Linked DNA regions of Homo sapiens: region 1 is linked to region 2. Evidence: fine-mapped expression QTL. A gene starts in region 2. The other region holds a variant in brackets. All regions are shown on one strand. Distances are from middle to middle. Region 1 has its middle 22 kb from the start of CACUL1. Region 2 holds the start of CACUL1 (CDK2 associated cullin domain 1).

What was found. PIP is the estimated chance that this variant, and not a neighbour inherited with it, causes the effect.
Region 1: its variant is fine-mapped to the expression of CACUL1 in aorta (GTEx, PIP 0.92).

What each region holds. Positions count from the first base shown.
Region 1 is chr10:118,775,823-118,778,729 of GRCh38, reverse strand. No RefSeq gene overlaps it. Among named protein-coding and RNA genes, the nearest start is that of CACUL1, 22 kb to the right of the region's middle. The variant C/T (reference allele first, on the strand shown) is at 1,631.
Region 2 is chr10:118,753,779-118,756,685 of GRCh38, reverse strand. It overlaps CACUL1 (CDK2 associated cullin domain 1), which reads left to right and starts at 1,716. Exons shown (of 9, transcript NM_153810.5): 1 at 1,716-2,290. The coding sequence starts at 1,924. RefSeq lists enhancers at 1,355-1,649, 1,648-1,787.

The DNA.
Region 1 (2,907 bases), 22 kb before region 2:
ATTTCCCACTGGAGGTGGCCCACCCAGCCTGGTAGAGTCTCCCTGAGTGTGTCAAAGCTGGCTGGTAATAAGAATCTCAGATTCCCAAACCCAACCCTGGGATTCTGACCCAGTTGCAGGTGTCAAAGCTGGCTGATAATTAGAATCTCAGATTCCCAAACCCAACTCTGGGATTCTGACCCAGTTGCATAGGGGGAAGAGGCAGGAATCTTTCCCCAAACTCCTCATCTGAGTCTGATCATCTGGAAGTCTAAGAACCACTGACTGACTCAATCATCACATCTGCTACTCACTAAGCCCCTGCTAGACTGAGGAGAGAGTTGGAACCATTGGTACTGGGAGCTCTTACTGTGTATCAGGTACTCTATTAAGCACTTTACCTGCATTATCTTTAAAAAAAAAAAAATCCTTGTGAGAACAGTGAGTACCATTATTCTACCCATTTTATTTTTATTTTTTAAAAACACAATTAGTACATTGATTATTCTATGCATTTTATAGATGAGGAAACCAAGGCTCAGAGATATTAAATAACTTGTTTGAGATCACAAGGTGACATATGGTAGAACCAGGTTCTGACCTGGGCATCAAACTGTGGCCCTGCCCTGTGCCCTGAGATGAGAGACATGCACTAAGGAAGGAACCAGCCATACAAGGCAATAAATTCCAGGTGACAAATAGGAGTGGAGCATGCACAACTTAAGATTTCAGAGGACAGAAAGAAGCCAGTGAGGTCTGGATGTTCAGATGTAAGGGCTGGGCCATCTCCGGTGGGGAGTAGAGTGCAGGAAAGGAGAAGCAGGCAGAAGATAATGGTCTAGATCCGGAGTGTGGAACAGTTGCAGGAGAGAAGCAGAGACCAGAGACCACGTGGGCCCTGGATGGGGAGGTGGAGATAGTGAAACCGACCCAATGTCCCATAGATCATTTAAAAAAAATAAATATATATATATACACACATAGAAATGGACCCTTCTGGTCTTAAAGCTTGAAACTTACATTTGTTTTATCTGAGTTCCTTCCTCAGGAAATGACCTTCAGGCCTCTCAAAAAAAGTATCAGGCCAGGCGCGGTGGCTCACGCCTATAATCCCGGCACTTTGGGAGGCCGAGGCAGGTGGATCACTTGAGGTCAGGAATTCAAGACCAGCCTGGCCAACATGGTGAAACCCCGTCTCTACTAAAAATACAAAAAAATTAGCCAGGTGTGGTGGCGGGCGCCTGTAATCCAAACTACTCAGGAGACTGAGGCAGAAGAATAGCTTAAACCCAGAAGGCGGAGGTTGCAGTGAGCCGAGATTGTGCCACTGCACTCCAGCCTGGGCAACAGAGTGAGACTCTGTCTCAAAAAAAAAAAGTATCAAAGAACTGAAACTCACCAGATCACCCCATCCAGACAAAAAGACTCCAGGCCCTTCGTTCATCATGATTGCTTCCTTCCCCACCTAGTTCCTGTTTTCTTACACATTGTTACATTTATTCCTTGCTGTATAAACCACTAGTTTTGGTTGGTCTGGGAGATGGATTTGAGCCTGAGCTCCTCCTATCTCCTTGGCTGCAGCACCCGATTAAAGCCTTCTTCTGTCATCTCAATGATTGGCTTTCTGTGTGGCAAGCAGCAGGACCTAGAC[C/T]GAGCCCCTGATGTTTCTGTAACAGTAGTACTTGCTTTGGCTCTCTATGGTAAGAGATAAGGATCCTTGTCCTAGGGTGGAGAGATAAATGGAGTCCGGGGACCAGAATTTTCCTGGAAGCTAATACGAAACACCTAACAAACCAGAGGTTTCATATTCAACATAGCTAAAGATAGGAACTCAATGCAAAAACCAAAATGGTGAAAGTTCGCTCCTCTATCTTTGTGGCATCCCCATTGACTGGCACTCAGGGACATGCATCTTCTCTGCCCTTCACTTCCCTTTGCTATGCCTCTGATCGTTTGCAGGAGGCTTGGAGGTATTTTGTTTTTCTACCTCCAGCATTCATGAGATCTCGGTAGTCTTATAATAAACCCTGCCTTCTGCTTCAGTTAGTTTGAATAGTTTCTGATCCTTGCAACCAACATATCCCTGCCTAGAATAGAAATAATGGGGGAAAAAAATAGAAATGACAAATATCGTTTCTGATACAGGCAAGTTGAGATGCAGGAATGGACCACATATGTGGAACTCCACCAGGAAGCTGGGAATTGAGTGATGGCACTTGAGTGATGCATTAGTTAAGATAACATGAGGTGCAGTGGCTGAGAAAGCCTGAAAACCTCAGTGGCTTAACACATGTTTATTTCTTGTTTGTACCATAAATGTGGCTATTTGTGTTCAGGCAGCCTTCATCCAGGAAGTACATCCTTCCTTCTTGTGGCTCCTCCCTCCTGTATAACCCTGGAGTCCTCTGCAGTCAACTATGCCTAGGCCAGGCCTGTGGGAAGCATTGTGCCCCAATGTGACAAAGATCCCCTCCGCTCACTTGCAATCGGCAGTAACAGGTTTTCAGTCACGTGATCCCACCAAAATCCAAGGAAGCTGATGCTGTGGAAAATAGTATGGCTATTCCTCAAAAAGTTCAACAGAATTACCATCTTGACCCAACAATTCTATTTCTAGGTTTCCATTCTCAAAGAATTGAAGACAGGTGTTCAAACAAGTACTTGTACACAAATGTGTGTAACATTATTCACAACAGCTCAAAGATGAAAAGAGCTCAAGTATCAGTCAGTGGATGACTGGATAGACAAATTGTGGTCTAGTCATGCAATGGAATATTATTTAGCCATAAAAAGGAATGAAGTGCTGATATATGCTACAACGTGGATAAACCTGGAAAGTATGTTAAATGAAAGAAATCAGGCACAAAAGGCCACATATTGAATGATTCCTTTTATAAGAAATATCCAGAATAGGTCAATCCATACAGA
Region 2 (2,907 bases):
CTGCAATTAGAGAGGGAGTGAAAAATCACCTACTCTGATGGTAGATTTCTTTGTCTTCTTATACTTCTGTTCATTTTCGCTTCATATATTTTGTGGCCATATAGTCGCTATGATATAAATCCTTAGATATGTAAAGACTTGCTTTATGACACAGTATGTTAGAGACACTTTTTTGACTCTATCTTCCCTGTATATTGGACTTTTTTTTTAAATGTAAAGACCCTTCTTTATCCCATCGCACTCACCCAGCCATCTACCTAGAGTCTGTTGATGATAAACCATTAGTTGTTTGAAACAGAATTTGCCTTCCTTCTGCCTCTCTTTTTGCCACACATGTAATTCTAAGGTTTTATGTTTTCCCCTTCAGCATACCACTTAATTCTCTTTTTTTTTTTGGAGACAGTCTCACTCTGTCACCCAGGCTGGAGTGCAGTTGCGCGATCTCGGCTCACTGCAGCCTTGACCTCCAGGGCTCAAGTGATCCACCTAAGCCTCCAGAGTAGCTGGGACCACAGGCACACGCCACCATGCCAGGCTAATTTTGTTTTTAGAGGCGTGGTCTTGTTATGCTGGTCTGGCTGGTCTCGAATTCCTGGGCACAAGCGGGCCTCCCATCTCTGTCTCCTCAAGTGGTTGAATTACAGGCGTGAGCCACTGCGCCCAGCTCGCATTTTTTTTTTTTTTTTGAGATGGAGTCTCGCTCTGTTGCCCAGGCTGGAGTGCAGTGGCGCGATTTCGGCTCACTGCAACCTCTGCCTCCCGGGTTCAAGCAATTCTGCCTCAGCCTCCCGAGCAGCTAGCTGGGACAACAGGCACGTGCCACCACGCCCGGCTAACTTTTTTGTATTTTTAGTAGAAACGGGGTTTCCCGTGTTAGCCAGAATAGTGTCGATTTCCTGACCTCGTGATCCGCCCGCCTCAGCCTCCCAAAGTGCTGGGATTACAGGAGTAAGCCACCGCGCCCGGCCTGAGCCGGCATTTTTAAAAGTTGGGTTGCTGGCCTTAGTGCATACAAACGTAAAGGAATTTTAAAAACACATGAGTAACTCAAACGCATTTCTTTTTTGCGCCATCCTGCTATGTGTGATTCGGTTTTTATTCTCGATTTTGTGCGTGTGTGTCGCGACGGCTGGGGACCGACCCAAGAGCAGTCGGACCACGGGCCGCCCAGGGCGGTCTCATCCGTTTATAACCTGCGACCCCGGGGCCTCTTGTGGTCCCGTACCTCCGTCCCAAGCAAAAGCCGGGGCTCTCAGGCACTCAGAGGTGCGAAGGCCCCGTAGACTTGGAGGACGCGAGGAAAACACCTCCAATCACTCTGGCCAGTCCACAGCTACTGCCAAGACTGCTCCGCGCGCGTCCTCAGGAACCGGCGAGGGCCTCGTCGTCATGGTAACCAGATTGCGAACGCGCGTGCGCAAGACACACCTTTGTCACGTGAGGCCGGGCAGGGGGCGGGGCCGGCGAATGCCCGTCCCGACCCGTCGCGCCTCCCCTGTTAGCTCCCTGCCAGCCGAGGCGGGGCGAACCTCTGCCCTGTTGCGTGGGAGTGACTCACAGCTCCCGCCCCTTTTGGCTCCGCTTTCTCGCGGCCAGTCCCTCGCACCACGTGCCCTCCTGGCCGCGCCCCCAGCTGCCCTTTCCAACTGCCTGTTGGAAGCCGCTGTAAAACGTCGTGAGGAGCGCCGCTGCTTTACGGCTGCCTCTCCCAGACTAGAGCCCCGGAGCGCCCACCGCCGTCAGCCGCGTCTTCAAGCTAGTCGGCCCCGCGGAGAGCGAGAGACCCTGCGCACCGCAGCCCTCTCCGCTGCGCCCATTCCTGCCGCCGGCGATGTAACTCGGGGAGGCAGCGGTGCCCGCTGGCCCGGGGTTGAGACAGGCGGCAGGTGCCTGTGAGGCGGGCGGGTGCCGGGGGCCAGCAGGATGGAGGAAAGCATGGAAGAGGAGGAGGGGGGCAGCTACGAGGCGATGATGGACGACCAGAACCACAACAACTGGGAGGCTGCGGTGGACGGCTTCCGGCAGCCCCTGCCACCTCCGCCGCCCCCCTCGTCGATCCCGGCCCCTGCCCGAGAGCCTCCGGGGGGGCAGCTGCTGGCGGTGCCCGCGGTCTCCGTGGACAGGAAAGGCCCCAAGGAGGGGCTCCCGATGGGGCCGCAGCCACCGCCGGAGGCTAATGGGGTGATCATGATGTTGAAGAGCTGCGACGCGGCCGCCGCCGTGGCCAAGGCGGCCCCCGCCCCCACCGCCAGCTCCACCATCAACATCAACACCTCCACCTCCAAGTTCTGTGAGTCCAGCCTTTCCCTGCAGCCTTGGCTTTTCTCCACCTCACTCGGACGCCGAATCCACCCCCTCTTGGAGAAAGCTCCGCTTCCTTTGTTTCAGGCCTCGGTCTTTCCTCTTCTCCCCGTCCGCCTTCGCCTCCCTGCCTCCTTCCCCCTCACCGTCCCCTCCCCCTCATTTGGTGTCTGCGGCCAGCGCCTGAGCGGCCCTGGCTTCTTGTATTACCTGGCCTAGAGAGGCAGCCTGGTACACACGGAGCCCCAAGTTCGGTCAGTGCGATCCCTATCACAACTGGCAGTCTCTCAACATTGGGAAGCTCTTTTCGCACCCGTCTTCTCTTGAAGTTTCACCCTCAAAGTGAGGGGAAAATAAGGCTGCCTGAGTCTCGTTAGGGAAAGGCCTTCAGTCTTCTGCAGCCAGAGAGAGAAAAGAAATCTGGCAACTTGTGTTCTTGTGTTTTTGGCCAGGCTGTGTTAAACAAGTAAGGAATTTGAAAGTTGACCTATATCTACACCTTGTTCCTTCTCTACTGTGTTACACTTTTGCATCCTGCTAGGGAAATAATGAGTTGCTTTCCGATGCAGTGGCAGCTCCGACATCGTCTTGAAGCTAATAATGCAT